4 linked regions of the Homo sapiens genome follow. The protein of the gene in region 2 binds, or shares a complex with, the protein of the main gene of each other region. Each region holds a gene or a part of one and is shown on either strand. Other genes may lie near its edges.

The links.
Region 1: METTL14 (region 2) and WTAP share a complex: the UniProt entries of both Homo sapiens proteins name them as parts of the WMM complex.
Region 3: METTL14 (region 2) and VIRMA share a complex: the UniProt entries of both Homo sapiens proteins name them as parts of the WMM complex.
Region 4: METTL14 (region 2) and CBLL1 share a complex: the UniProt entries of both Homo sapiens proteins name them as parts of the WMM complex.

Annotation. Positions count from the first base shown.
Region 1 is NC_000006.12:159,722,391-159,730,643, reverse strand, and holds the start of WTAP (pre-mRNA-splicing regulator WTAP), read right to left. Parts: upstream 3,139-8,253; 5' UTR 2,941-3,138; intron 1-2,940. UniProt on the Homo sapiens protein: Associated component of the WMM complex, a complex that mediates N6-methyladenosine (m6A) methylation of RNAs, a modification that plays a role in the efficiency of mRNA splicing and RNA processing.
Region 2 is NC_000004.12:118,709,311-118,716,498, reverse strand, and holds the end of METTL14 (N(6)-adenosine-methyltransferase non-catalytic subunit METTL14), read right to left. Parts: intron 6,502-7,188; coding exon 6,197-6,501; 3' UTR 1,069-6,196; downstream 1-1,068. UniProt on the Homo sapiens protein: The METTL3-METTL14 heterodimer forms a N6-methyltransferase complex that methylates adenosine residues at the N(6) position of some mRNAs and regulates the circadian clock, differentiation of embryonic stem cells and cortical neurogenesis.
Region 3 is NC_000008.11:94,522,038-94,529,686, reverse strand, and holds part of VIRMA (protein virilizer homolog), read left to right. Parts: intron 1-344; coding exon 345-617; intron 618-2,323; coding exon 2,324-3,464; intron 3,465-7,649. UniProt on the Homo sapiens protein: Associated component of the WMM complex, a complex that mediates N6-methyladenosine (m6A) methylation of RNAs, a modification that plays a role in the efficiency of mRNA splicing and RNA processing.
Region 4 is NC_000007.14:107,753,861-107,761,509, reverse strand, and holds part of CBLL1 (E3 ubiquitin-protein ligase Hakai), read right to left. Parts: intron 7,616-7,649; coding exon 7,532-7,615; intron 6,093-7,531; coding exon 6,019-6,092; intron 3,368-6,018; coding exon 2,332-3,367; 3' UTR 1-2,331. UniProt on the Homo sapiens protein: E3 ubiquitin-protein ligase that mediates ubiquitination of several tyrosine-phosphorylated Src substrates, including CDH1, CTTN and DOK1. Targets CDH1 for endocytosis and degradation.

The sequences.
Region 1 (8,253 bases), on a different chromosome or scaffold from region 2:
ATCTTTCCTTGAAAGTCGATGATATGCCACAAAGTTAAATGCGCCATCTGGCAAAAGGCAAATTAGAACAGGTTCAAAATTTACAACTGTCTACAACATTCAACTATTTGGTCAAAATAGAACCTAATTGGCAATTTTGACTTTCACACCACACGAATGTACCGAGAAGTTTGGTATTCCCCAGGGCAATTTTTTTTTTAGCGCAAATGACAAACACAATAACCTAAATTTAAAGTCAATTCTAGATTCATAAAGGCAATGAATATTCTAGGTTCTCAGAACAATCTATTCTCGTATCAGAAAAACAGAATGACCATAACATCATTTGGAGTCAATTAAAGTTGAATCCTGAAGGAAAATAATAAAGAAAATATGTTCAGTTCTTATGAATCACACATTTAATAACAGCACTTTTCAAAGTCAAAGTTAGTTCCCATTTTCCAGGATGAAAATGACTGTTAGTCATTAGGTGATCAGCTATTAGGTGATTAAAACAGCTATTAATTAATAAATTGGGGGTAAGGGTCTCAAATTTGGTGCCCCTCAAAAGGGTGGTAACATGATTGACTAGTTTTAAAATTACATAAAAGTTTCAGTTATTTATGTAGATAATTCAGAGATAATATATCTCAGAAAATCAGGACCACCATCTACTCTTGATGCCTTAACACAGAAAAACAGCTTAGTATGGAGTTCAGTCTAGACTGGTTAGGTGCCTAGCATCCCAGATCCCAGTACCTTCCTGGCTCTTAGCATCATAAAGTTAGGTAACTCAGTTCCCTCTGAACGGAGGCAAGCGCCAGCCAAAACAACTTCAGTAAGAAGACACGGTACCTTGGCGAACAAATCATAGCTGAATGTAAGACACCAATCTGCAGACACTGTAGTAGCAAGGTACTGATGAGGAACTGAAAGGCCATCTTTTCCTTATCCTCTATCTGCCATGTGTGATTCCAAGCAAGTCTTTTAACTCTTGCAGTTTCCAAGTCAGCAAAAAGATAATTTTGCCTGTCTCACAAAGTGCTGCAAATATTAATGCTTTCAGCACAATAAAAATGCTATAGATTTTTCAAATAAAATATGAACATAATATGAACATAAAAGGCAACTTCAATGTGCACTTAGAAAAGATTAAATTCTATTAACTACATCTTCAAAGGCAGAAAATATTTACAGCAATATATTTTAGTCAGATGGAACATCTTGTTATACACAATACACAATGAAGTTTACTATTGTGGAGATACTGAAAAGTTTTTCTGTGTTAAGCTTAGTAACTACAAGAAGCAAAATATTTAGAGGCAGAAAAGTTGGAGACAACTAAAAAAATTAAAAACAAGAATAAAACCAAAATACTATCTTCAGTCTTCTTTTGCTGAAGGACCTACTAACTAACGTACAATTTTGAGGAGCAAGAAGCAAATACATAATGATCAAAACTGCTAAACAATATATTCAAGGGGATTCAATACTACATACAAGACCATAAGAGACCTTGAACGCTTTAATGTACTGTACAAATTGTGACAATGCTCATCTCCACATCACAGGGCTTTTTACACATTGTGTTTCATCTCTACCAGCTTATTTCTGACAAACAATACACAAAAATATTTTCAGCAAACATGACTCAACGTTGAATTGGAAAAGCTAGACATAAAAGAGCCATGTAAAAATAAGCAGTGCCTGGGACACACTATTATTATTACTTTTATCCTTTAGGAGTTAGCAATTCTGGTAGCTTGTCCAAATTCTGCCAATGAAAAAGTACTAAAAATACTGAACTTTTAAACCATGTGTCTGCTTAAGATACCTTAACATATAAAAGCACTGTAAGAAACACACCTACCCAAACCCTTAAAATGTAACCTCAACCTTATCACAAGCCAGCTTTGCGGACTGCAATCTTTCCCCGACTTGGCTAATCAGATGCTACTTGAATGAATTAAAATGTATCCATCTTGAAAAGATTTTTCGCTCATAGTTTTAAATTACGGTTTTAAATGTCCACAACATGTTTATCTATCGTAGAAAACTTAATGGTCAAAATTTTAAAATCCAAAAAACGAGAACTTGCGATGGATCTATGACGTCCACTTATCTTCCGAAGCAATGGAATTAACTAAAACTAGATAAAATAGGCACAAATACAACTTCCAATTGTAACATACTCATAGAAGTATTTCCCTACCAGACTAAATAATAGTTTTTTTGTTTTGTTTTGTTTTTTTTACATAATCACAGTTATGCTAGTCCTTGATAATGTTAAGCTAATCCTTTGGGATCAAACAACCAAGTGACTTTCTTATCAAAACAAGAACTCGGGCTTTTCCATTACGTGTACACAGACTTATGAAAAACGGTGAAAAAAAAATCTAGTAACTGTCTCACAGGGATCCAAGGTAAGACTTGGATTTCACAAAAATCTGCAATAATTCAGTTTCTTTCCTCAGAATGCTTATACTCATTTAAAAATGGAAGTCTACAAGAGAACGTAGTAACATCCTACTGCGTGACATGAAATGTAGGGAACGAATGTTTCTTTTTTTCCTTGCTGAACTCGTTAGTGCCGCCAGGTCCTCAGGAGAGGCCCAAGGGAGGTGAAGGGGGCGACCCCGAGGCGAGGAAAAAACGAGCGCCGCCGCTCAGCCCGGGGAGGGCATCCTCCGGCCTCCGTGAGTGGCCGGTCTCTCCGGCCGCCAGAGCACCCCTCTCAACCCGGGCCTTGGGGACGGAGGACAGAGATAAAATGGCCTCGAAGCGGCGGAAGTGTTCCCCGCAGGCGGGAAGGTAGAGCGGCTCACGAGAGACCGGTGCCGCACCAGGCCCGTGTGGCCTTTCGGGCCCTGCCCGCCCCTTACCCGCCGGGGGCGGCTGCGCATCAGCCCTCAGGCCCCGGAGGTCCCCCGCGTCCGCTCCCGCCAGCCGGCCCGCGCCTACCTCTCCAGGCAGAAGCCGCGCCGGCGCCACCGGTCGCATAGGCCGAGGCCGCGCTGCTTGCCCTGCCGCCCGGGCCCCCCGGGCCACCGCGCAGCCGGACAGCTCTGCCGCCGGCCCCGCCGCGCTCCTAGTCCCGCCGCAACCCCTGCGCTCCCCTTTATTTGTGGGTCTCGCTGCCACAAAATGGCGCTGAGGGAGGAAACCAGGCCCCGCCGCCCGGCCCCGCCCCGCCGCACGGCTCCGCTCCGCCCTGCCCCGCCCCACAGCCGGTCCGAACGCGCCGCAGGCCAGCGCCACTGCCTCCCGCCTCCCGCCTCCCGCCTCCCGCCAGCCTCCCCGCTCCGCCATGTTCGCCTTCTGGCCCACTCACAGGAGAGTCGCCTTTCAGGCGTGGCCGCAGTCACTCGCCCGCCGCCGAACCCCGCCAGGAGAGGAAAGGTGAAGGGAGGGAGGCCGTCGGCCTAGCCCGATCGGGGCCTCGAGGCACAATGGAGCAGCTGCTCCCCGGTAACACTCCCCGTCCTTTCCCAGGAGCCTGGCGCGAGCTCCGCGGGCCCCGGAGCTCAGCAAGCTCAGTAAGGGAAGCGGCCGAGGGGAGGGGCGGGCCAGCGAGGTCGGAGGTCAGCCCCAGGGCATCACGGGAAGGGAAGGTGGAAGTACTCGCCGGGGCCACCTGCGGCTGCGGGGCTGCCTCGTGCGGAGGGATCTGGGCGAAGGCGGCGCGTGATTGGCCGCTCTGTGTTCGTGACGCTCATCCGTGATGCTTCCGCGTGTCGGAGGACCAGGTGCCACCTCAAGAGAGAGGCCGTGGGCGGCGAGCCGCGGGCGTTTACTCTTAGCAGAAGCTCACCTGTAAGTTTTGAGAACTTAGAAACCGATGCCTTCCCTCTCATCAGTCGTGAGGCGCAGTCTCCTGGCCGCTGGGTTCGTTCCTCCTTGACATCTCTGGAGACGCATCGAGGAGCTATTGTTCTCTGGCGTCGGAGGTTGCGCTGTGTCCGCGGCGTTGAGGGCCCCTTGCTAACTGGAACACGGGGAAGGCGGCCCTGTGAGGTTTAGTGAACTCAATCAAAGAGGTCCTGCAAGTGGAGTAGACTCCCTGAAGTAAGACTGCCATCTGGACCGCCGAGTAATGGCGGTGTTACCTGGAGAACGTGAAACAGTCTCTAAACACTTACTAGAAGAGCACGTAATTCTTTTGATTGGTCTGTCCTTAGCCGGCTTTATCAAACCTGTTCATCCCCAAAGGAGTGTCTTGTAGTAAGGTGATTTATTAGGATAAGATTAAAGTACATTCCAGATGGTCGTAGTATATTTCCAGTGAATCAGATCGGTCTGGAGAAAATCTTTGCAACTCGTATCACAAGAGCTCTCAAAAATTGAAAACAAAAAGTGCAAAAGCCAAAGGAGAAAATGGGGAAGGACATGAACAGATGATTCTCAGAAAAAATACCGTAATGGTCTTTAAACATAGAAAGTCGCTCCACCTCACTTACAATGGAAATACACGTTGAAATTACCTTTCCTGGTGGGAGTGGAAAAATGGTTCAAGTTCCACGGAGTACAAAATTACTTGTGTTTATTCTTATACCTTGCAGTTATACTTCTAACCCTAACCTTATTCTGAAGGTGCAGCTCCACACATGGAAACAATAGGTATACAAGGTTATTGCAGTGCTATTTGTCATAGCAAAAGTTAGGGATAACCCAAATATCCGTTAATAGGGAACTGATTGGGAATGGTGCATCCATACAGTAGAACACAATGCAACCATTAAAAAGATTCAGGAAATAATCGTGTGTTGCTTTGGAATGAGTCTCAGGTTGTATTAAGTATTCACTTAAATATTTAAGTGTAGTAAGTATTCACTGTATTCAAAAGCAAAAATAAGCATATATGCTTTTATGTATTTACTTAAATACATAAAAATATATATTTATATTTAATATGAATATTTATGTGTATATGCTTATTTTCGGGGAGGAATTGGAAGGATATCCTGGAAACTTAACATTTTTAGTTGCCTATAAAGAGTGGGGGGTGGAGACAAGATTTCTCTGTCTTTGAACTTTTAGTTTTACATAGCCAAAAAAGTAAATAAAAAAGGAAACAAAGTAAATCCTAAGGTTGAAAGCAAATTGAAACAAATGAACTTAACTGTTAACTAATATAACTAAGATACACAGAAAAAATAATTATTCTTTGGGTTTTTTTTTTTTTTTTTGAGACAGTCTCACTGTGTTGCCCAGGCTGGAGTGCAGTGGTGCAATCTCAGCTCACTGCAACCTCTGTCTCCTGGGTTCAAGCGATTCTCTCAGCTCAGCCTCCTGAATAGCTGGGATTACAGGCATGCGCCACCATCCCCTGCTGATTTTTGTATTTTTAATAGAGATGGGATTTCACCATGTTGGCCAGGCTGGTCTGGAACTCCTGACCTCAGGTGATCCGCCTGCAGGTTGGCCTCCCAAAGTGCTGGGATTACAGGAATGAACCACCACCACTGGCCCCTCTGAGCTTTTGAACACAGTACTCTAGTAGTGTATCTGTGTTGTGATAGTGTAGTCTTTCCTTATATGCAGGAGATTGGATTTAGGACCTTCTGCGAGCATATACAGAAATCTGCATACTAAAGTCCCGGAGCTGAGCATAGGGAAAGTTGGTTCTTTGTGTAGGTGTGTTTTGCATCCCACTGTACTTCTGTTTTGTTTTCTTCCTTCCTTCCCTTTCCTTTCTTTTTCTTTTCTTTTTTTCTTTCTCTCCCTCTCTTCTTCCCTCCCTTCTTCCCTCCCTCCCTCTCTTCCCCCCTCCCTTCCTTCCCTTCTCTTGCTTTTCTTTTTTTTTTTCTTTTTTGAGAACAGGGTCTGACTCTGTCGTCCAGGCTGGAGTGCAGTGGTACGATCATGGCTCACTACAGCCTTGACTTCCTGGGCTCAAGCAATCCTCCCATCTCAGCCTCCCGAGTAGCTGGGACCACAGGCATGTGCCAGCACATCTAGCTAATTTTTTTCTATTTTCAGTAGAGAGCTGTGTTGCCTAGGCTGGTCTTGAACTCCTGGGCTCAAGTGATCCTCCCACCTAGCCTCCCAAAATGCTGGGATTATAGGTGTGAGCCACCGTCCCTCGCCCCACTGTATTTTTCATCTGTGTTGGGGTGAAAAAAATCCACATATAGGTGGACCCTGGCAGTCCAAACCAGTGTTGTTCAAGGGTCAACTGTGTATTCTAAGGATGAAAAAAGTGCACAGGAGCTTTCAGCTTCACTGATTTATGATTAATGGTAACATTGTTACTGTGGTTTTAAAACTCTGTACTGTATATGGTAGGATAACATAAGTATTTTAATGTTACTATATACAAAGATGTGCAGTGTGTGAGAGAATGAGATACAAACACAAGATCAAAGAAGTTCAGAAAAGGGCCGGGTGGCTGATGCCTGTAATCCCAGCACTTTGATAGGCCAAAGCGGGAGGATCACTAGAGTCCAGGAGTTTGAGACCAGCCTGGGCAACATAGCAAGACCCTGTCTCCATTTTTTAAAAAATTTAAAACAATTTTTAAGACGTTCATTCATCCGGGGGTGGGGGTGGAAACTAATATAAAGAATTTTAAGAAGTTCAGAAAAAAAAAGTCTGTAGTATTGAGTTTAAACTGGAGGGCTGGGTGCAGTGGCACACACCTGTAATCCCAGTGCTTTGGGAAGCCAAAGTGGCTTAGGAGTTCAAGACCAGCCTGGGCAACACAGTGAGATCTTGTCTCTACAAAATACAAAATAATAAAATAGCCAGGGGTGGTGGCCTGTGCCTATAGTCCTAGCTACTTGGGAGGCTGAGGCGAGAGGCCCAAATGAGCCCAGGAGTTTAAAGTTACAATGAGCTGTGATCTCACCAGTGCACTACAGCTTGGGCAACAGACCCTATCAAAAAGAAAAAAAAGTTTCAACTGCAAAAAAAAGTCCTAGTTCTGTGGACTGAAAGGGCCTAGAAGCACTAGGGTGACCAGTTGTTCTAGTTTGCCACAAACAGAGGGGTTTTCTCTGGATGCTGGACTTTCAGATTAAAACTGGAACAGTCCTGGCTGAACCAGGATGTATAGGCATGGGCACCCTACAGTAACAGTGAGCACATCTGACACTGAGATCTTGGTTTCTAAATTCCATTTCCCACTAAAAAGATCCAGAGCTCCTTTGGAGAACTGGCTGATTCCAGCTCTGGGACGGGAAAGGTACAAGATGAGCCAGGTATTTCGTTGTGCCTGAATGCAGAGGAAGTGCTTAGACCAATGAGGCTATGCCAACTGTAGTTAGGAGAACAAACAACACTAATCCATAGTGGTAGATAGCAGATCAGTGGTTGGTTAGGAGGGGAAGAGAGAAGGAATTGACTGGAAAGGAAAATGGGAGAACTTTTGGGGGTGATGGAAATGTTCTGTGTCATGGTTAGTGGGAATGTATACGTTTGTCAAAATTCATCAAATTGTGTCACTGTAAAGAATGCATTTTATTGCAAACCAAATGAGAAAAGCAAAGTCGATTGAGAACTTGCTGTAGCAAGGGAGTCAGCCACCATCCCTTATGTTTTAGCAGAGGTTCAAAGGCATGCAGAGGAGTGGGAAAGCTTTACAGTGGACAAAAGGAAAGGTTTCACAGGTATGCCTGATTGGAAGCTGTTGGCATGGGGAAGCTGGAAGCTAACTACAAGTTGGCATCCTATGGTCTTGGTTAAAGGAGCATATTTGGCTTTCTCTGGATGGGCATAAGCTAGAAGTGAGGACAAAAAGTAGGGAAGCTGTCAAGTTTTAATCAAGTCCTGGCCATTTTGAGCTGATTGTCATAGAAGTTATTATTTAGCTTCCTGGATTGCTACCAGAGATAGCAGTCTGACTTCCTACAAGTCTGGTTGATAGCAGGTTTGGCTTTCAGGCTGAGAGTACACTTATGGTAAATAAGTGGTTGGTTTACTGGGCTAGTTGTTGTAGGTAATGGGTCAGAATTCTGTTTTTATGTATATTCTGGCCATTTACCATTTGTATTTTCAGTCTCTCAAAAATAAATTTTAGAGACATGGGAGCCAGCTTGAAGGATCTCCCAGGGGGCAAATTTAGGGCAATTTTAGCGTCAAAAAGAAAATGAATACAATTGATTGCAAATACTGAATAAATAAAAGTCTACTCTCTAGTACAGAGAAGAGAGAATGAGAAGAGGGAAACTATTTTTCCATCATTGGTAGTGTCTATTACACCAATTTGATACTCTGAAAATTAGTTATTAAAGGGAGATAGCATTTACCCTGTTTGTTTTTTGTTTCATTTGTTTT
Region 2 (7,188 bases):
GGTTCTCTCCCCTAGGGATTATAGGCGTTGCTGTTGCTGACCAGCAGCAGTTTCCTAAGACTCCTGGGTGCCACCCCACACCCATCCTCCACCATCCTGTCCACCCCCCTTACTCAGGCAATCTACTGTCTCTATTATTCACCGGAGAAATATAATCTACTTTTTCCACTTAGGCTATAATTAAACAAGGTGACACAGGTGTAGTTAAATCGCTCTCCTTATTTTAACATGTTGCCCTTGGCAGAGAAGTAATTGAAAAGTTACATTCTAAGGAAGGAGTCAGGTTCCTTTAAAGTCAGACCAGGGGAAGTTAGTTCTGTTCAAGACCTCTGATAAATGGTAATTCAGTGGAAACTGCTTTGTTTTCTTTATCCCCAAAGATAATGTTCTTTTATTTGAGACAGAGAAAAAGTCTTTGTTAGAAAAACAGTCCTCTTACACAGCAAGAAAGCATCAGCAGAAGGGAAAAGAGCTGACAAGGGAAGGTTATGAAAAATCTCCTGGGAGTTATTTCCAATTATTAAGCAAGCAGCAAGGGAAAGGGACTATTTATTGAGCACTTATTATATGCCATACATTAGAAGCTGAGAAAGCATACCACTGCCCTTATAAAGCTAACAACAAAAACTAAGTCATAAGAGCCCAAGCAGTGGTGTAAAAGCTCAGGACTAGGTGAGTAGACAAATGCAGGTATCAGATGAAAAGGCAAGCTTTCTGTTTGAATCAGGGTAAAGGAAAGCAATCAGAACTGGGAAAGGTCCCCAAAGAGGTGCTGGTGCCATCCTGATCCACTATCTTGTCAGCACCATCTGAGGAAGGATATGGAGTTAAGATTCAAGGAGGTAGTTGGCTGATGGGCTTACATTTGTGTTTACATTTTTCTAAATTTTGCTTTGGAATTATTTTTATAAATATATTTTTAATCATGCATTATCCTTTAATTGAGCTCAATAGTAGAAAAGAAAGCTATAATCTTGAGTTTTTATTTACCATGCTATAAACCTAGCTTCTTAGACAAAACAATAACCCAACTACCCATGTAGCTTTCATGAATTATGAGCAATATTATTACATTAAAAATCTTTTTATTATTAAGGTACCCACCACAATACATAAACTATAAAGTGACAGCTAATTCCACAAGACATTTAAGCAATTACTTTGATCATTTAACCAGCATAAACTACTAAACTGGATATATCAGAACAAAATTGTGCTTTGAGGTTTTGTCCACTTTCAAAAACAACAAAATAAACACCCAGAAAAGGCAGGATAATGATGTAGCCATTCTCTTATGATAACAACAGTTATAAAAATCTGTACAGGTAAGGATTATCTAAAAGGTGTATTTTGTGACAACACAAGCCTAGACCTCCACATTTTCCCCCATTGGATAGATGAATGGCTTGCAATGACATCATTATACGGCAATTTTAAAGTATTAGTTCACATTTTCAGTCTACTGTGTGTTCCAAAGTAAGCCAACTACTTAATATGCTTTCAAAGGTGATAGTTTCCTGTCTCAAGCAAGTAACCTTTTTTCCTCTTTTTTAAGTAAATGTGGTCACACAGTATACAGCTACAATGCATGCATAATTTAAATATGCATGTTGGCCAGTTGCAGAGGCTCACGCCTGTAATCCTGACACTTTGGGAGGCCAGGGTGGGTGGATCAGTTGAGGTCGGGAGTTTGAGACCAGCCTGGCCAACATGGTGAAATCCTGTCTCTACTAAGAATACTAAAATTAGCTGGGTGTGGTGGTGGGCACCTGTAATTCCAGCTACTCAGGAGGCTGAGGCAGAAGAATCGCTTCAACCCTGGAGGCGGAGGTTGCAGTGAGCCAAGATCTTATCACTGCCCCCCAGCCTGGGTAACAGAGACTCTGTCTCAAAAAATAAAAATAAAAAAGAAAATATGCATGTGGTATTTTGTTAGCCAAGTTAAATTTTTTTTAGTTCTATGAATGCAAATGTAAGCAAAAGTCACAAACTATTTTGTCAACCTCTAAAATGTAGGGAAATGCACATGAACATCTCAGACTTACCCTCTTCTCTCTGTGGTGACAATTAGCTGGAGCTGACAAGTGATGTCCACTTTACCCAGGGTATGAGGTCTCCAGCCCCACTCTTCTCTCTATAGTTGCTATGGCCTGAGACCAAGAGTCAGTGGCCATTTACTAACGCACTCTATGCTGCTCTGCTCTGCTTTTCTTAGAAAGGAGTTGAGAGAACTCATCAAAGTGAGAAAAAGCACAGATAGATGGATGAAAGTAAATGAGTGAAAATATTTCCATGTCGTTAATATGCAAACAATGTGCCTAAAGAAGACAATTATCCCATTAAAAAGTTCTTGGCCTGCTTCTCTATTAATATAGAGTCCCATATGCATTTTACATTGTTGACTTCTAGGTTGTCAATTATTTAGAAGTATTTTTGGAAAAACCTACCTTATCTGATTTCAGTTTATTAGCACCTTTAGTTACAGAAACATGAACTCTAACATACACTCAAACTGATCATTTTAATATTTTATCCAGTAGTGGAAAAAGGGTTTACTGGAAAAGGATGTCCCAATTATCTAGATTGAATGAGGTAGTTTTTCTCTGTGCATTACAGCTAGCAATATTTATACGAGTAAATGATAGAGTTATTGAGAGCAGAAGCAATGTGGTATTTCCAGAAATGAAGTCTTCAATGGAGTCAGTTTACTGGATAAATGTTCTAATCTTTTGAGAAGTCCTAGATTTATGGCCTCAAAACTAACTATATATACACAAGAAAAGTTCAGCCTCTATTACCCAACATCAAAGAGAGGATAATGCTAGTCACACATGAACCCTAAGATTACAGGATTGTTCTAAGAAAGACCTTCTGCATAAGCAAAGGTTTATGTTTCTAATAGATCACAAAATATGAGACACTTTCAGATCAAAGACTACTGTTTAGACTAAGTCCCAACAGGGCTTTCATTTTGTCATGTTAATAAGGATTATATTAAACAAATTAGTAAAGTCTGAAACTATACTTCAAAGGCTAAATCTTATGTTCTAAATTCAGGATGAAAACAGTACAGGTTTTAAATTAAGCGCTGTAACTAACTGAAAGATAATTTAGCAATTAAGATGGGTAGAAAGTATTTTAAAAGACATGAAAAGGAGTAACTCCTAGTAGCAGCTGTGACACCCTGATGCACAATATAGCTCCCAAGTATCCCATCTTTATACTCCATTAACTTAAATGAAACTATAGCATATCACTGACCTGGCCTCAGAATAAGGGAGATAGGAAATAAGGGCTCATAAAGTGGCTCTACTACTTACCAGAGTAACAGAGCAGAACTGCTGCAGTAGTGATCCCTCTCAACTCTGGATCTGTGAGTTGGTTGCCATGCCACACTCCTGCTTGATTCTCACTTCCCAGGTTGACACCTTGACCTCTCACACTGTGCTGTTTCATGATGACCGTATTACATTCTGACTGCCATCATCACAATTCTGTGGTCTAATCTGATTCATTTGTGTTTAGGTATGGTATTCCACACCATAAAATCTGTTCTCCTGACATCATCAACTACCTGCCCTCTTCTTTCTCCACAGTGAAGAAGAGTAAAAAAGTATTCCTACTCAATCAGTACTTTGGGCCTCCTAATCCCCATCCTCTGAAAGGAGGAAGGTCAGTGGGAAAATGGTTCTCACTGGAAATAAATAACAACAGTTGGTTTGGAATACCATGAATTATAATTCTGTAAAAACTCAGACATGCTGATCTTCTAACTTCTAAACTAGGTTATTTCACAATAATTAGCTTCTATCCCCAGTAAGGAATTAGTGCATAAAGCAACTAAAAATTTATTTCTATACAATTTTTTTTTTTTTTTTTGAGACAGAGTCTCACTCTGTCGCCCAGGCTGGAGTGCAGTGGCACAATCTCGGCTCACTGCAACCTCCGCCTCCTGGGTTCAGGCAATTCTCCTGCCACAGCCTCCCGAGTAGCGGGGATTACAGGCGTGCACATGCCACCACGCCCAGCTAATTTTGTATTTTTAGTAGAGATGGGATTTCTCCATATTGGTCAGGCTGGTCTCAAACTCCTGACCTCAAGTGATCCACCCACATCGGCCTCACAAAGTGCTGGGATTACAGGCATGAGCCACCATGCCCAGCATTTCTAAATAATTTTGTGGAATGTAAGACATGTAAATATAAAGAAGACCAAAAATTAGAAGAGGTCAGAGTAATGAAATTTCATTGGAAACCTTTCCTCAATGAATACACAGTCATTGCAAAAACAACACCTCAACCTTTACTGAAAGTGAAAGTTAGCAAAAACTAGTGAATCAATTCCATCCTGCTATTAAAAAGGCCAGATTCATTGTCAAAGGGATAAATTCTGGGTCTTACATTCTTTTTCCACCATCTGCTCTTTTTTAAATAACTTTTTCCTAAATATGGTAGATCATGGCTCCCCTTAACTTTCAACCGACAAAGCAGCCATACCTACCTCTTTCTAAGATGAAATTGTGACACTGATCTCACAGGTGCCTATGCCATGTAAACAGCAGGAATGTCACCTTGGGTAGGCCCAGGGTATGGAACGTAATAGAGAGCCCTGTGTATAGGACAGGGTCACTCCTTAGCTGATACTTCTAAGGACCCATCACAGGCAAGTGGAATTTCTCTATCCTGACTTCATTCCCAGGTCAATGCTGACATATAGAGTTCTAAATCTAGATAATTTGTAATTAGTGAAGTTGAAAATATACCATAATTTCAGCAAAAAAAAAGGGGTCTTGTACTAGATAGTACTAATGGGTTAAGCGAGTTAAATTAATTAGGCTTTTAAGGATCTCAGCCTTATTTCTTCTATCACTCATTCCTTATCTTCAAACTGAGTCTTTGGTGGATGTAATATAATCTCATCTTAGGTATATATGAGCACAGAACGGCCATTAAAATCCATCACAGACCAAAAGAAGAGACTGATTTTAGGTCAGTCCTTTTTCATTTTGTAACAACAGTAATTCTACTTATAGAAAACAGACTCTCAAATCTCAAAAGTTTAAAGTTTCATTAGAAAAATCATAAAAATAAGAAAAGTATTCATCAAGAATGATAATAGTATAATTTCATTATCAAATTCATTTAAAACATGAATTACAGTACAGCAAGAGAAGTGACAGCATAAAGTCTTATATAATTTTAAAAACAAACATCACACCATATGGTTTTAATAAAAGGCAATTGCAGTTCCAATTTCCAAGCTGTATCCTTAAGTTGAGGGTTTTCCGTAGTTGGTTTTACATTAAACTATCTCCATAACAAGTTTAAAGGTGTATGTCATTTCATCACCAAGTATTTTAGTCCCAAAATGTATAAACCAAGCATCTGATAATGAGGTATCTTGTCGCTGCCTCTCTTTTATTTGAGGAATATAAAATTTAAGGTCAATCCAAGTTCAAGTCCACACCACAGTGCTATCTAGCACATGAATATTTGTCCTCCTTTGCTTCTTAGGAAGCGTGATTAGGAGTCATAGCCACAAAATTGAGATTATGATGATAAACTTTTTTTTTTTTTTTAAGTCTGCCTGCTAAGTTCTATCTCTTCTTTCACCCACCCCTGGAATCTCCACCTCCCCTATCAAATTTAGATTTGGGAAGAGTTTTTGTTCAAAGTCTCTTAATTTCTTCAGTATTCAAATTATATCTGAGTTTATTTAAAACTTAAAAAAAAAGAAGAAAAAAGCTTACCTCTTTTTATTGTTTCATCAAGAAAATGTTAAAACCCTGACAAAAGCTTACCATCTTTTCCAACTCTATTCTATCAAGGCCCTGTCAGCACTAGCATGATACCACAGACTGGATCTTTTTCCATTATTTATTCCCAAAAATTAGCAAAATCCTTTGTAATTAGCTGAAGTCTATCAGAATAAATTCAGTCTCTGAAGATGAAGCTACTTGAGTTGTTCCATTCTGTTCACGCACATAACAAAAGGCAGAATCATTCATTTATCCTGAAAAAAACCAGACAGTGTGTGTGACAACTGCAAGCAAGGCTCGCTAAGACATTCTTGCAGCTCAGAGAAATTAAAGCAAAGTGCAAGCTGGAAGTGAGTTCTAAAGTTAAGTCTCCCACTTGAAATTTAATTACAATAAAGAAGGTTAGAGGAGGATGAATAGGTTCAATGTCTTCAACAATTATCGAGGTGGAAAGCCACCTCTGTGTGCTCCTCCACGGCCCCCTCTAAAGCCACCTCTTTCTCCTCGGAAGTTAGATCTATTTCTTTCTCGTCCACGGCCAGCAGAAGTTCCACCTCTTCCTCCACCTCTGGGAGCTCCACCTCCTCGGTCAGATTTAGATTTGGGAGGAGGCGATTTTGGTCGAAGTCTCTCAATTTCTTCTGTACAACCAGTCAAGTAGGAATTAGGAGCACTGAAATAGGATGCATATGTTTCTGCATTGTAGTTGCTATTTGTAAGCGTTGGTCCAACTGTGAGCCAGCCTGAAATGGAGGAAAAAAAGATTATACTTTTTATTTGCAATTCTCTCTTATTAATTCTTTAGAAGCTAGTTCAAATCCCCAATGCATTCTTAAAGATGTCCCCATCATTCATCCAATACTGATCTCTTTTACAGAATGGCACTTAATTGTGGTCATGTTTTAAAGATTTCACAGGTATATATCTTGTTTCTCCTCCTAGATTGTAACTTTTGTAATATATCCTCCTCATCCACGTACTATCTTTTGTGAGAATAGAACTTAGAGAAAAAAAATCCCATACATTACACTGAGTTTGGGTTTAGTGAAACTGTAATAAATTATATATAATCTTCCTATTTATGTAAATGGTGCCATTTTCTGATTAAAATCTTGGAACCAACTTTTGCTCTACACTTGCTAACTAGAAAATATTCTCAGTTGATAGGTCTGAGAAATTCAACCACTACCATGTTACTCCCACTCATTCCTATCTTTCCATTTCTGCTGCCACCCTCAAATTTAAGCCTTTATTTTTTTTTACAAGGTCAATACCCTACCATATAACACATGTGTAACAGACACACATATATACTGTAATGATCTCCCAACCTATAGCTTCTCCTCCCTCTAAAAGTGGAAAGCCTAAAGCAAAGCTTAAAACATGTCACTTCTCTGCTCAAAAACCTTCCAACTGTTTCCACAAAGCCC
Region 3 (7,649 bases), on a different chromosome or scaffold from region 2:
GCCTGGCCGACAGAGTGAGACTCTTGTCTCAAAAAAAGAAAATAAATAAAAATAATAAATAAAATAAAATAAAAATAAGTATGTACTGGAAAAGACAAAAACGTGTATAGTTACTTAAAAGCTAAAAAGAAAGGGAATGGCTTAACAGTATACTTTATTATTGCTCACTGTAGAAGTTGTACAGTGTATACTCAATATTTTTTAAACAGTGAGTAATTCTTTTTTTTTAAGGGTATTTATAAACTATATCAACCAAAATATTAAGTAGTTGCCATATCCAGTCTTGCTGCCTTTTGTCATTTAAACCATTAAAATAGTCTGTGCCTTAAATCTCAATTTTTCAGTGTCTGGTGACAAGGAAGAGGATGCTCCTCATAGAGAAGATTACTTTGAGCCCATTTCTCCTGATCGGAATTCTGTTCCCCAGGAAGGGCAATATTCTGATGAAGGAGAAGTAGAAGAGGAACAACAAGAAGAAGGAGAAGAAGATGAAGATGATGTGGATGTAGAGGAAGAAGAGGATGAGGATGAGGATGATCGACGAACAGTAGACAGTATTCCTGAGGAGGAAGAGGAAGATGAAGAGGAAGAAGGTGAAGAGGATGAAGAAGGTGAAGGTGGGTTATGTTAGCTAGGACTTTGGGGTTTAAGTACTAGAAACTAACTCGATACAGCTTTGAAAAATGCAAAAGAATTTCTAGCAAAGATAAATGGGTTCCAAGAAACCCAGGGTCAGAATGTAGCTAGGCCTCAAGGCATGACTAGAAATGAGATTTCCATCTCTCCTCTGCTTTGTGTGTTTACTTTAATCTCCCCTGTTTAACCAGCCAGCCTAAACTGCCTGACTGTATCTCAGTTTTCTGTTTGACTTGCTACAGTATGAGTTTCCCTTTGACAGCATCAGCTTTTGCCAGGAAAACAGGGTCATGTAACAAATACATGTTGGTTAGGGATTTGGTGGCTGTTTTCAGAGTAAGGAGTGGTAAAGCTAGGTGGAATTCCTAAAGATGTCTGCCACCTAGATATTTTAGCAAATGCTACATTATTTTTAAAAATTCAAGGGAAAAATCTCAATTACACAAGTACATGTGGCAGTATGATACAGTCCTTTAATTAGGCTTTATTTTTCCTTTGAAAGCAAAAAGTGAGAGATACTCAAGCTAATTGGCTCTTAATTTGCCCAAGAAATGGCATTTAATGTTAAAGCATTTATGCAGAATAACAGATAATCTGCCTTGGCTTTTTTCTACAGATAGTAAAAATGAATGTCATTTCAGAATCATAGGGGCTCTTTTAAAAAATATCAAATAGCTAGATTATCATGTGATTTTTTTTTAACTTTCCCCATTCACAGATTATCAAATAATTATTTCTAGATTTATTGTATTTGGCAAAAGTAGTTAAATGTTAGGCAGGCAGTTTTCTTTTTTTCTTTCTTTTTTTTTTTTTTTTTTTGAGACAAAGTCTCATTCCATGACCCAGACTGGAGCGCAGTGGTGCGATCTTGTTTCACTGCAACCTTCACCTCCAGGGTTCAAGTGATTTGTCCCTCAGCCATCTGAGTAGCTGGGCTTACAGGCACGCACCCCTACGCTCAGGTAATTTTTGTATTTTTAGTAGAGATCAGGGTTTCACCATGTTGGCCAGGCTGGTCTCGGACTCCTGACCTCAAGTGATCTGCCCGGCTTGGCCTCCCAAAGTGCTGGGATTACAGGCATGAGCCACTGTGCACAGCCATATTTTAAATGGACACATTTTCTATCAAAATATAATGGAGACCTACAAAACTGTGTGATAGGTAAATGCAGAGAAATAAAAATTCTGGAATGTGAAATTGTTATAAAACGAATCTACAATGGTTTTGCTGAAAGTATTTGGTTTAACCTGATGATATTAGTTCTTACTTAACTTAAAACAACCAGTTTTTTTTGGTCTTAAAAATAATCTCTCAAGAGGACAAGCATAATTTCTTTCCTCCTGAGATAGATATTTTTGTTACTTTGAGGCATTTCTAATTATATTTCTGTGAGGAAAAGATATCTGTTACAGTTAGTTGTAAAACTGAACAGATACAGAGGAATTTGCTTAAAATGTTTGTCCAGTTTTCAGGTCTCACCCCTTTCAGGAAAAAAAGAAGTTTGTCCATAATTCTATTAGAAATTATAAAATGTTGTAAAATTGTGGGTAAGATGTTGGGGCAGAAGTTGGTTTTGTTGAGGAAATCATTTTTAATGTTTTATTAAAACTATTTCTTGTTCAATCAGAATTTATGTATTAGACAAAGATGATGTAATACTTAAATATTATTCATACTAATTTTCAGGGGATGATGGTTATGAACAAATTTCCAGTGATGAAGATGGAATTGCTGACTTGGAACGTGAAACATTTAAGTATCCAAACTTTGATGTTGAATACACTGCTGAAGACTTAGCTTCAGTTCCTCCTATGACATATGATCCATATGACAGGGAGCTTGTACCACTCTTATACTTCAGTTGTCCATACAAGACTACTTTTGAAATTGAAATCAGTAGAATGAAGGATCAAGGTCCAGATAAAGAAAATTCAGGGGCAATCGAAGCCTCAGTGAAGTTAACAGAACTCTTAGATTTGTATAGAGAAGATAGAGGTGCAAAATGGGTAACAGCTTTAGAAGAAATTCCAAGTTTAATAATAAAAGGGTTAAGCTATTTGCAATTGAAAAACACAAAACAAGACTCCCTTGGCCAGTTGGTAGACTGGACCATGCAAGCTTTAAATTTACAAGTAGCGCTTCGCCAACCTATCGCCTTAAATGTTCGACAGCTCAAAGCTGGGACCAAATTAGTGTCCTCACTAGCAGAATGTGGGGCTCAAGGAGTTACAGGACTGCTACAAGCAGGAGTGATCAGTGGATTATTTGAACTTCTGTTTGCTGATCACGTATCATCTTCTCTTAAGTTAAATGCTTTTAAAGCTTTGGACAGTGTCATTAGTATGACAGAAGGAATGGAAGCTTTTTTAAGAGGTAGGCAGAATGAAAAAAGTGGTTATCAAAAGCTTCTGGAACTCATACTTTTAGATCAGACTGTGAGGGTTGTTACTGCTGGTTCAGCTATTCTCCAAAAATGCCATTTCTATGAAGTCTTGTCAGAGATTAAAAGACTTGGTGACCATTTAGCAGAGAAGACTTCATCTCTTCCTAACCACAGTGAACCTGATCACGACACAGATGCTGGACTTGAGAGAACAAACCCAGAATATGAAAATGAGGTGGAAGCTTCTATGGATATGGATCTTTTGGAATCCTCAAATATAAGTGAAGGGGAAATAGAAAGGCTTATTAACCTCCTAGAAGAAGTTTTTCATTTAATGGAAACTGCCCCTCATACAATGATCCAACAACCTGTTAAGTCTTTCCCAACGATGGCACGAATTACTGGACCTCCAGAGAGGGATGATCCATACCCTGTTCTCTTTAGGTAAGACATGTTTGCCTTTTGGGAAATAAATTTCACAAATCATTGGAGACAATTTTATGTGGTTGATTTTGCTTTTTATCTGATTGTAGGTAACTTATTTATGTGTAAGGATACTTGATATTTCAAAACGGTTATTTAGTAGTGGAACTGAGAAGTATGTTACTGTGGGTGAGCTTATATTGTGTTAGTTCTTAAAGCAAAAATGGGAACTTCAGTGAAAGATTTTAGTAATTAACAATGATGCTTGTATAAGCATGTCTATGAGCAAGAATAAATGAGAAACTGCTGACTTGCTTCTGGGAAGGTGGTAACAAAGGAATGGTGTAGGAAGGAGAGCTCTTCTGTGTGAACCCATCTGTACTTACTACTCTTAATACATTGTAAGTTAAAATTATATTTTACTAGCTTAATTTTACAGTGCTGGTTAAAGATGTCTTTAAGTTTCCATTACTACTTGTTTCTGCCATCTACCTCTCTCATCTGTTGATACAGTTTTGCCATTGTTAGGACCAGCATCCCTAGTAGATTTTTTATTTTGTTTTGAGACTTTCTTTCTTACCATTTGCCTGTAAATAATTTCCTAACATAAAAATGGAAAAATGGCATTTGAATTATTTTATTACTTATTTTTGTGATTAATATTTTCATTGATTTGGATGGAGCATAGTGCATTCCCAGGGGATGGGATATGTGTCCAGTCTAAAACCTCCACTTATCCAAGTTCCTGTTTTTAGCTGAAACTGTTACACCTTGTCTTAGTTTTGAGTTTCCTAAAAGGATAACTTGAGTCAAAGTCTTGGGTGCAGGTTCTTTGAAAGATTATCCTAGGAAGCAGAAATGCCTGAAGAGAGTAAGATAAGGAGAAAAACCAGTAAAGGAAGTGTTATTATACTTATTGCTGTGGACAGCTGGGGCTCATCCTACTGGGGATCCTCCGAAGAACTGGTTAAAGTGTATCTCCTGCTTATCCTCCTAAAACATTCAGGCTGGGCATTCGTCTACCAACTCTCCCCTTTGGTTCAAGGATGCCCACAAGAAACTTTTAACTCTTTTATGCTTCTGAGCTGTTCCTGCTTGTGGTCCGAGCACCCTTTAATCCCTTTGGGGGGAACCCTGAGAAAGAAAGGTAGAGAGGCCCAAAGTGAACACTTGAGGCCAGATACTGGCAACCCTCACAGATTGTGTACTGGGAAATCAATGGGTCAGTGATGGGAGGTTGGGGAGCAGTAATATGTAAGAGATGGGCAGAGAATGCATTTAGGCAGGATACTTAGAAGGAATAGAAAGACAAAATGAGAAGCAGGAGAGAATAGAAACTAAGGAAGCAAATAGTTTTAGGAACCAGTGAATGGTTTGTTGTGATACTGTGCAGAGGTTCAGAAGATAAGGATAGGAAATCATGTATTTTGTAACATAGATTGCAAATGGGGCTCTGGCAAAAGTAGTTTAATGTAGCAGTGGGAGAGGAAGTGTAGATGAAAAACCACTGGCCAGTAAGGATTTGAAATGGTGTAGGCCACTGTTTTAAGAAATGTGGGTGGATCACCTAAGGTCAGGAGTTTGAGACCAGCCTGGCCAACATGGCAAAACCCCATCTCTACTAAAAATAAAAAACTAGAGCCGGGTGTGGTGGCTCACGCCTGTAATCCCAGCACTTTGGGAGGCTGAGGTAGGCAGATCATCTGAGTTCAGGAGTTCGAGACCAGCCTGACCAACATGACGAAACCCTGTCTCTACTAAAAATACAAAAATTAGTCGGGTGTGGTGGTGGGCGCCTGTAATCCCAGCTACTTGGGAGGCTGAGGCAGGAGAATCATTTGAACCTGGAGGTTAGAGCATGCGGTGAGCCAAGATCTGGCCACTGCACTCCAGCCTGGGCTACAGAGTGAGACTCTGTCTCCAAACAAACAAACAAACAAACACCGGCCAGGCATGGTGGCTCACGCCTATAATCCCAGCACTTTGGGACGCCAAGGCAGGTGGTTCACCTGAGGTCGAGAGTTCAAGACCAGCCTGACCAGCATGGAGAAACCCCATCTCTACTAAAAATACAAAATTAGTGGGGCATGGTGGCGCATGGGTGTAATCTCAGCTACTTGGGAGGCTGAGGCAGGAGAATTGCTTGAACCCGGGAGGCAGAGGTTGCAGTGAGCTGAGATCTCACCATTGCACTCCAGCCTAAGCAACAAGAGCGAAACTCCGTCTCAAAAAAATAAATAAACAAGTAACAAAAACACACACACACACAGACACACACAAAAACTAGCCGGGCTTTGGTGGAATGTGCCCGTAAACCCAGCTACTTGGGAGGCTGAGGCAGGAGAATCCTTTGAACCCGGGAGGTTGGAGGTTCTGGTGAGCCGAGATCGGGCCACTGCACTCCAGCCTGGGCAACAGAGTGAGATGCTATCTCAAAAAAAGAAAAACTAGCCAGGTGTGGTGGTGCATGCCTGTAATCCCAGCTAACTCGGGAGGCTGAGGCAGGAGAATCGCTTGAACCCAGGAGGCAGTGGTTGCAGTGAGCCGAGATCGTGCCACTGCACTCCTGCCTGGGCGACAAGAGCGAAACTCCGTCTCAAAAAAGAAATTTGGCCAGCCTGGGCAACATAGGGAGACCGCTACAGAAAATAAAAAATCAAAAAAAAAATAGCTGGGAATGGTAGTGTGCGCCTGTAGTCCCAGCTGCTCAGGAGGCTGAGGTGGGAGGATTGCTTGAGCCTGAGAGGTTAAGGGTGCAGTGAGCTGTGATTGTGCCACTGCACTCCAGTCTGGGCAGCAGAGTGAGACTGTGTCTCAAAACAAGAAATTTGGCTAAGAGAAAAAGTAAGAGACAAGGCAGCAGCTAGAAGGAGATGTTGGAGTCAAAAAGGAAGGTTTTTATTTTTTAGGAGTGGGAGAGGCTTGAGCATATTTGTAGGCTGGGAATAATGACTCATTTATAATAAAAAGTCAGTGGAGAGGGAGATGTTTATGATGTAGGAGTAAACAATAACAATTCCTGGGGCAAGGCTTGGTGGGAGATGAGGACAAGAGTACAAGTGTAGGAGTTTGGTTTTGGGCAGGAGAAAGGGAATCTTGTAAGTATGCAAATATAATACATTTGTAGTCTTGGAGATTGTAAAGAAATTTAAATACTTCTTACTAACAACTTTATTTTTAGTAGAATAGGTGATGTTTTCAGTCACTGAGAAGAAGCTAGTAATTAAATACTTACTGAGTGTTTTTTTCCCACCATATGGAGGAGGTATATTTGGGTATCAGACAAGAGGAAATAAAGGGCCCAGAATGGTTGTGCTAAGGAATTTGGATTTTATTTGTAGAATATGGAAAGGTATTGAATATTTTGGAGTAGCAGATCTGATATGATCAGAGTAATATTCTCAGATTTTGTGTTGCAAGATGTATTGCAATGGAAAAGAAATTAGAGTTACTAGGAAGATAAGATAGTCTGAGGTTTCTAGGTACTGGGTTTTAAGTACTTTGCCCTTAACAGGTAATGGAAAGGCAAATATTGTGCTTATAGTGACAGAGATTGTGAAATAGCCATTATATTATATAATAGTACTAGGACTTGGCAACAGGACCTAGTAGGCGAAGGGAAGTGAGAAGAAGCTAGAGATTTCTAGCCAGGGTAGCAATTGGAGCTGTGGTTTTATTGACAGAAACTGGTAAATTAGGAAGGAGAGTGAATTTTGAAAGGAAAAATAATTGTACTTTGGAGGGTTTGTTTTTGAAGTGGTGGCAAGGCTCTATTGTCCTATGTCAGGTTCCCCAAGAGCACCAAGATTCTCTAGGAGGACTCACAAAACTCAGCATATAATACTCAGCAAAGGAAAAAGGTACCTGGGAGGAAGTTGGGAAAACCAGTTGCAAGCTTCCAGAGTCCTCTCACAGTGGAGTCACATAGTGCCTGCCTAATTCTCACAGCAACAGGTTGTGACATGTGTGAAGTGTTGCCTGTTGAGGAAGCTCTTTAGAAACTCGGCACCCAGGCTTTTTTATTTTTTATTTTTAAATAGCAACAGTGACATGTTTTGATACATGTATACATTGTGGAATAATTATATCAAGCTAATTGGCATGCAAATTTTTTTATTGTGGGTAGTCATGTAGGCACTCACTGCCTATCTTATACCAGAATTCCAGACTCCTAGAAGGAAAGCAGGTGTTCAGCATAACCATATT
Region 4 (7,649 bases), on a different chromosome or scaffold from region 2:
CCGTAAGGAAAGAAACACTAACAGTAATTTTGTTATCCTTCTACCCACCCACCCTCATTCAAACAATTGATGAATTCAAGTCTAACACGATTTAAAACTTTTGTCTGCTACAACATTCATCTGATATGCCTCCCTGCATAACATAGATTTCTTAAACCTAATTGAAAATAAATCATTTTTTAAAAACTCTACAAGGGTTCTCTTAATTCAAAATTTTATCATGATACTGATTTTCTCGTCCAATACATAGGCTAAGTGGTTTCTTACCACATTCAACTCTAGTGACTTTCAATAAAAGCAGGATAGCTCTTCATAAATAGTTGAGAAGCTCTAAAGTGATTTTGGCTATTTTCTTATTACATGGAACAAAGAATGGTTTGGATTTTTAACAGTAATATTTTAATAGCTCCTAAACAGGGGGATGAAAAGGAATCAAGTTTGCACCAGTCCAAGTACCTACAGTAATATGATAGAAGCACTCACCACCATTTCACACTATCACTCCCATGCTTTTAATAACAAGCATTTCTCACTAGAAATATTGCATTAACACTGGACTTTCAAACTGCTAAATGTAGAAAATCACTTGCCTGACTTAAAACAAAAAAGTTTATTAGTTATTTTTGGCCAGTCAAGGTTGAAACGGCCATTTTGTTATTTCTAACTTCTGCTCTAGGGTTCAGAAATGATTTTGCATCTGATCATTCAAGATGAGAATTTGTTTCACCTGTACCTGACAGAATAAAATGGTAAATTAGCAATCAGATCACCCTTTGTCAAAAGAAGTATGTTCTAAATGTATACACTACAAACTATCTAATAAATGATATCTGCATACTACATATTTCATGTTTTATTATGCACCATTTTAGTGGGGAGGAAAAACTTCACAGGGATTTATTCAAAGGATATAAATAATATCCTAAGAATGTTGATTTATACATATGAGTTCTGTATAAACTGTTAAGTGGTCATCTTAGCTAAACTATAACAAGCCCCTATAATGTAAAAGCTGACTCGAAAGGCACCATGTAAAGCACTGAAATCCACAATTTAGCTGTTATTTCCTCTTCTCCAATACAAAATTATCTGGTAGTCTTCACTGTTGACTCCATGATAAAATGTTCCAAATTCAGACTGCTTTACCGACAAAAGGAATAGGAAATAAAAGTTTTTAAATTTCAAGTTAGAGGAAAAATCCTATCACACAGCAATGAAACCTGAGCAAATGCAAATTTGTGATTACAAGAATATGTCCTTCATTAATATATTATTCAAATTCCTCCATGGCATTCAAACTGTAGTTGAAAATCCTATAAACAAGAACCCACTTAAACACAGCATCAAACTCTACCATGAAATGAAGAATTACATAAAGCCTATTCAGCCCTATTCAGTTTAAGACAATGAACAAAACAGAACACATTTCATCTAAAGAACACCATTTAAACCCATTTAAACAGTTCTATAAAATAATGTTACTTAAGATCAGTATGTGTGGTGCATATGTGATTCCGACCATTCAGTAAAAAAGCATTAATGAGTAACAGCATTCCCCCACCAGCTTGAAGCCTGTAGAGTTGATTATTTTGGCCATCTCTTTCCAAATAATTAGTAATGTCTTTTAACATTACGAACAAATATATCTTAGTACTAGAATTCCAATGTATTTTGGTGCTCCTGAGGCTGCCTAAAAATGAAAAGGCATCCAAGTGAAGTGCATTGTATACTTACTATACCTCGAAACCTCAACATTTCAGTGCCTAAAATGTGAAATAATTCTCTATCATTTAACAGTCTGCCTTACAGCAAATTCTAGTAGATTTTTACTTTCAGGATTTTATTATAACTTTGGGAAATTAGTGGTAAAACATATGGTTTAAAAAACAGTATGTGGCTGCACTTAAATTCACATAAAAATAGCATTTTTACAACCATATTGAAATTTAATCCTTTTACACAGGTTAACAAAATGTATCACAAGAAAAACTAAACGTTGGGTTTAACAAAACAATACTTTTGAAGTAAAACAATGAAAAATTTTTTCAAATTTTTTACAAATGGTCACCTCTGGGTCAATTTACTAAACTAGGGGAACAAAGAGATGTTAAAATATAGCTGTGCTCAACTGAGCCACTTATCTGTACTACAGTATGGTACTTGAAATCAATCTTAAGGTCAAGATTTAAAACCATTTTAAGAAACAAGACCCTATGTGTTTTATACTACCTCGATAAGAGGTACTCTTCCTTCCCAAAACAGTCAAAGCTTAAAAGATTGACTACACATAAGTTTTTTTCCCCCTCATATCTTCCATTCAAAATACTATTATCATTGGTAATACGGTCTATATCTTGTCTGATCTGGATGATGTGGTCCAGGAAGTGGGGTTTGAGAAGGCGGACCCTGCAATCGTGGAGGTGGTGGTGGCCCTCTTGGTGCAGGCCATATACCAGGACTCATTCCCCCTGGTTGTGTAAATGGAGGGCTCAGAGTTCCTTGATCTTCAGTGAACTGGGGTAATGAGTTAGGATTATAATGGTGAGGAGGGGGTGCAGTTACAGGTGGACCACCATGTTGAGGTGGGGGAGGTCCTGGAGGAGGATGATTCATATAAGGTGGCATCTGGGCAATAATATGTCCAGGGGGAGGGGTTATTGGTGGTGGAGCAGAGGTCATTGGTGGAGGTGGAGCTTGGCTATATACCAAGTGAGGAGTACCTGCAGCCTGGGGAGGATGTGGCATTGGATGGCTTATTGGTGGTGGAGGAGGTGGGGGTGGTGCATAATGTTGCTGTGGAGGCATAATATGATGAGGGTGCGATACCACTGGTTGACCCTGATATTCAGGATGATGGTGAGCAGGTGCTGGGGCAGGAGGTGGTGGTTCTCTAGCACCTGAATTTGAGTCATCCTGAATAGGGACGGTTATTAAATTGCTGTGTTTTCTTGTTGAAATACGAAAGGTTTCCTGACTGACCGATCGAGGTGGAGGTGGAGCCATGGACAATTCTGCTGGAGGAGCACGAATATCCTCATGTGGCTGATTATAGTGCTCATGTGGCACATGTTGCAAAGGAGGTGGTGGCATCATGATGTGCTGCTTTGGCGGAATATGGCTCATATGGTGCTTGTCTGGTGGCATTATAAAACGCTCAGGGATTTCAGTTGGTGGTGGGGCAATAGGAGGATGAACATTTTCAAGTGAAGCACGGGTAACAGGTTTTCCAGCTCTCATATGGCGATGGTTGATATGAGCCTGTAAGTCTCTCTGAGACAAATATGTTCTCTTGCACCCTTGAACAATGCTACACATGAAGAGAGAACCTCGTGTACACTGCTCAATTCGCTGCACAGGATCACTACAGCTAAATTAGAAGGGAAAGAAATGTGATTTACTAAAAGAGAATACAAAAAATTATGTAATTTTCAAAAATATGCTTGTTTTTAAAATTTGACTGTTACATAAAACATAGCAAAAGTCCACAATTAGAAGTTACAGTTATTCTACGCAAACCTTTAATCTTCCCTACTTTGTTGTCTGTTAGCCATTAAGATAGGCATTTCTGTCAACTTCAGAACTCCTAATATCAAACGGTATGTTTCAAGAAGAGACCTCATTCTTCCCAAGGCCTAGAATTTATCCAGTTTTCTCAAACAATTGTACCTTCTGCATCCATTTGCCAAAAAACCCAGCAAGAAAAAAACCAACGGGTAGATTACTTACAATCATGGAATTCAAACTAGTATGGTATTATTGAGTGATAACTGTTTGTTGAGCAAATAATACTAAGTGGAAAACAGTAAGTAGAAGACATTGCAAGGACTACAACAAGTAACATCAGCCTCATCATTAGGGTTCTTAACATTAAACAAACAATTTCAATCCAAGCCTTGACTACTAAAAGTCCTTTAAAGAAGGGTTTTTTCTGAACTGTCAGACAAATTTACACTTTGCTAACTTTCTAATTTGTGAGCACTAAATTTAACTTAACATTTTCTTAAAAACTCAGGGTCAAAATTATAACTATTTTTCATTTACCATATTTAATCCATAATTGCCATTACAGCTTTCTTGACACAGTGGGGAAAGAGGACTGAAATAGGAATCTGAAGATCTTGGGATCTGGTATTGGCTCAGTAATTTGAAGTCATTGAACCATTTTTGAGTTTGTTTCTTCATTTATACAATGAGGTTAAAGTATCTACCTACTTCACAATGTTTTTATATCTATTTCATATTACCTAAAAGAATATTAATATCAAATGAAACAATGAAAGTGACAGTATTTAATCCCCAATTAAGCACTATATATAAATATATGTGTGTGTACATATATAAGCAATTATCATTGAATATGTGTGTCAGGTCATTTGACACTATACTAAATGGCTCTATACTCTTGATTTTGAGTTGTGTCTATCTTTCCATCCTTACTATAAGGCTGGCACTCCTTATTGATGTTATTATGCTTCCCTTTAGTGGCCATCTGGCACACTTTTTGCTTCTAGTTCACTGTAAACTCCGAACTATCTCCACCTTAACAAGATGTGAAGCACTTTCTCTTGGGTGGTGCTTAAGAACAGTAATATATACTGTTTAACTCTGACTGCCATTTCTTCACTTCCTGATCTGGGTCTGTTAATCCAGATAGGCTTCTGTCCTAAAATTGCTACTAAGGACCACATAAGTGAGGTGTGACATTTAGTACTTTGTTACATTTAAGTCCATTAGTAAGGTTAGTACATTAGAATATTCAGTACATTAGTTACATTTAGTACCTTGGGAAGTAATTTCTTTAAACAATAAGTACCTTTTAATTTCCTTTTAATACTTATACAAAAGAGGAAACCTTTAAAAGTCCTCTAAATAATGTTTTATCACATCTGAAATCCTTTATCCCGATGAAGCAATTAAATTTACTATGTAACTTAAAATGAATGTATACCATGCTGAAAAATTAGGCCTGAGAGAAAACACCCAAAAAACAAGTGATATGTATTTCTAATGTCTTAATTCTTCTGAATTATAATTCTATAAACAAAATATTTTTTAAATTCATAGAACAAATGTTATAATCTGTTACTTTAAAATGCTAATAAAAACATGCCAAGAGAATTAGTTGTCACTGAGCTGTTAATAAATCACCCCTTTCTCTCCTGGTGACGTCAAATTTTCCTACACCATAAAAGGGAATCATTGCTGACAAGTGTCCACAGCTTTGTTATCAATCAATACCACAAATCTTGGTATAGCTTTAAGCACAGGTTATAAGTGATCTAAGAAGCCTATGGCTACTCCAAGCAAGTATCTTTCATTCTTTCTTAAGCCTTCCTTATCAACGATTCTGAACTGATATAAAAATTCTTATTCTGTTTTCTTCAAGACCATCCCAAAATGGACCTAGCTTTTTATAACTTGTTTGAGACTATGTAATGATGGTGTTCTAAGACATACTCCAAATACAATAATCAGATTTGAAAGTAACAAGAGCTTATATATACAGTGCTTACTATATGCCAGCTACTATATATATGTATCTGTGTACATATGTTATATATATATAAAACCTCATTTAATCCTAAAAATACCTCAAGGAGGTAGGTACTATTATCAGTCTCATTTTATCAATAAAGAATAGCCTATGACAGTAAAACAGCTAATAAATAGCAGAACAAGGATTCGAACCCAGGAATTCTAATTCTGGAGTCTTTGCTCTCAATATATCTTAATACTTCTTTAATGTCCCATTAAAAAAAGTAACTTTTTTGTTTATAATAATACTTCTATAATGGCAAACAGATTTCATTTTGACCAATTTGAGTTGACTGATAGTGGCTACCTTGCCCTATATTAAAGAGAAACCTAACACAAGCTGGGCTCACAGAAAAAGATTAGCCATGTCTGTATGTTTCATCTCCTGCCTGATTTACATCACTCCCTAACCTTTAATCCAACTTATAAATCATTGCACTAAAACTTTATTATTTAAAAAAGGTAATGATAATCTTATCTTACCCTGGACACATCTTATCTCCCTTTTTTTCATGTAAAATAGCACAGTCATAGCAAAAAACATGCTTGCATGGAATCTGTAAACAAAGACATATTACAGTTAAGCATATTAGAACTTATAATATTTTTAAAATATATATATATAGTAACCTATACATAAGGCTTAGAAGACACTTGAGAATACCTGTTAAAATGAACATTTATTAAGTACTAATTATAATAACCTTTTTCAATCACAAAGCCTTTTGAGAACATGACAAAAACTATGGCTCTTTTCCCAATAAATGTACACACATGCATTTGCTTATACTTTCTGGAGGTGTAAACCCTATAAATTTCACCCATGGTCCCCACACGTTTTTTTCCTTTTTTTTAAGAAACAGATCTTGCTCTGTTGCCCAGGCTGGAGTCCAGTGGTGTGATCACAGCTCACTGTAACCTCAAACTCCTGGCTGATGTTCCCACCTCAGCCTCCAGAATAGCGAGGAACACAGGTGTGTGCCACCACAGCAGGCTAATTATTTTATTTTATTGTACAGACAGGGTCTCACTAAATTGTCCAGGCTGGTCCCAAACTCCTGGCCTCTGGCAATCCTCCCACCTCAGCCTCCCAAAGCCCTGGGATTATAGGTGTGAGCCACCACACCCAGCCCCCTGCAGGTCAAAAACTCCTGAAGAATACTTTTAATTATGTGTGTTTTTTTTTTAATCTTGTTTCTCCTGAAACTATTCCAATGCAGTAAAATAACAAGTATGTCCTATATTTAACGTAAGCAGCATCTTCCTCTGGTAGTTTCAAGTTAATTAACTAATAAAAATCTAAAAATCAATCAGAAGGATACATTAAATGATGTTAGAAGCACATTTTTAAATTCACAGCCTGTTACTATTTCTTTACTATGATGTTCAGCAAAGCAACACTGCATAATCCATGCCATCTACCATCACAGGTATGTTATTGAATTCAATTTTTTTTTTCTAAAGGCAAATGCAAAACTATCTTTTTTGGAGGGAAGAAATGTGAAAATTACTATAAAATTACAGTTAGGATTGTAAAATTTTTTTAATGATTATAATTCAATTTTCAGAAATAATAATTACTATTAAGCCTCTCTGAGCCTCAGGAAAAAAAGAGAAATTATAAATATTATTAATGCAGTTTTATGTAAAAAATTGTGGCCTTCAAAAATAAGCAGTTTTGTTCTATTTATTAAGAAACAAAAATTTCCTTAATAAACTAGAATAACTGTAAATTCACTGGTATCAAACACTCCAAAGGAATTAGTTTTCAGAAATTATTCTAATTTTCAGTTTTATTTAATATTTTATAAGAATTCAACAATTTGTCAAGATAATCATATTAAATTCATAGTATTCCAATACTTCCCTTAGTTATTTCATACTTATTTAAAATTTTGCAAACTTAGTCATTAAACAATGATAAACCTATCTAAATTTCAGAACCCCACCTCTATGCAAATGCTTACTTACAAAAACAATATTTAATTATACTTACCATTCTCCCATAGATTTTAATAGGCAATCCACACTTGTCACAGAAATGAACTGGTGTATCATCCTTTTCACCTAAGATGTTTATCTGTTGAAATGATATAATTAAAATTACCTTCTTA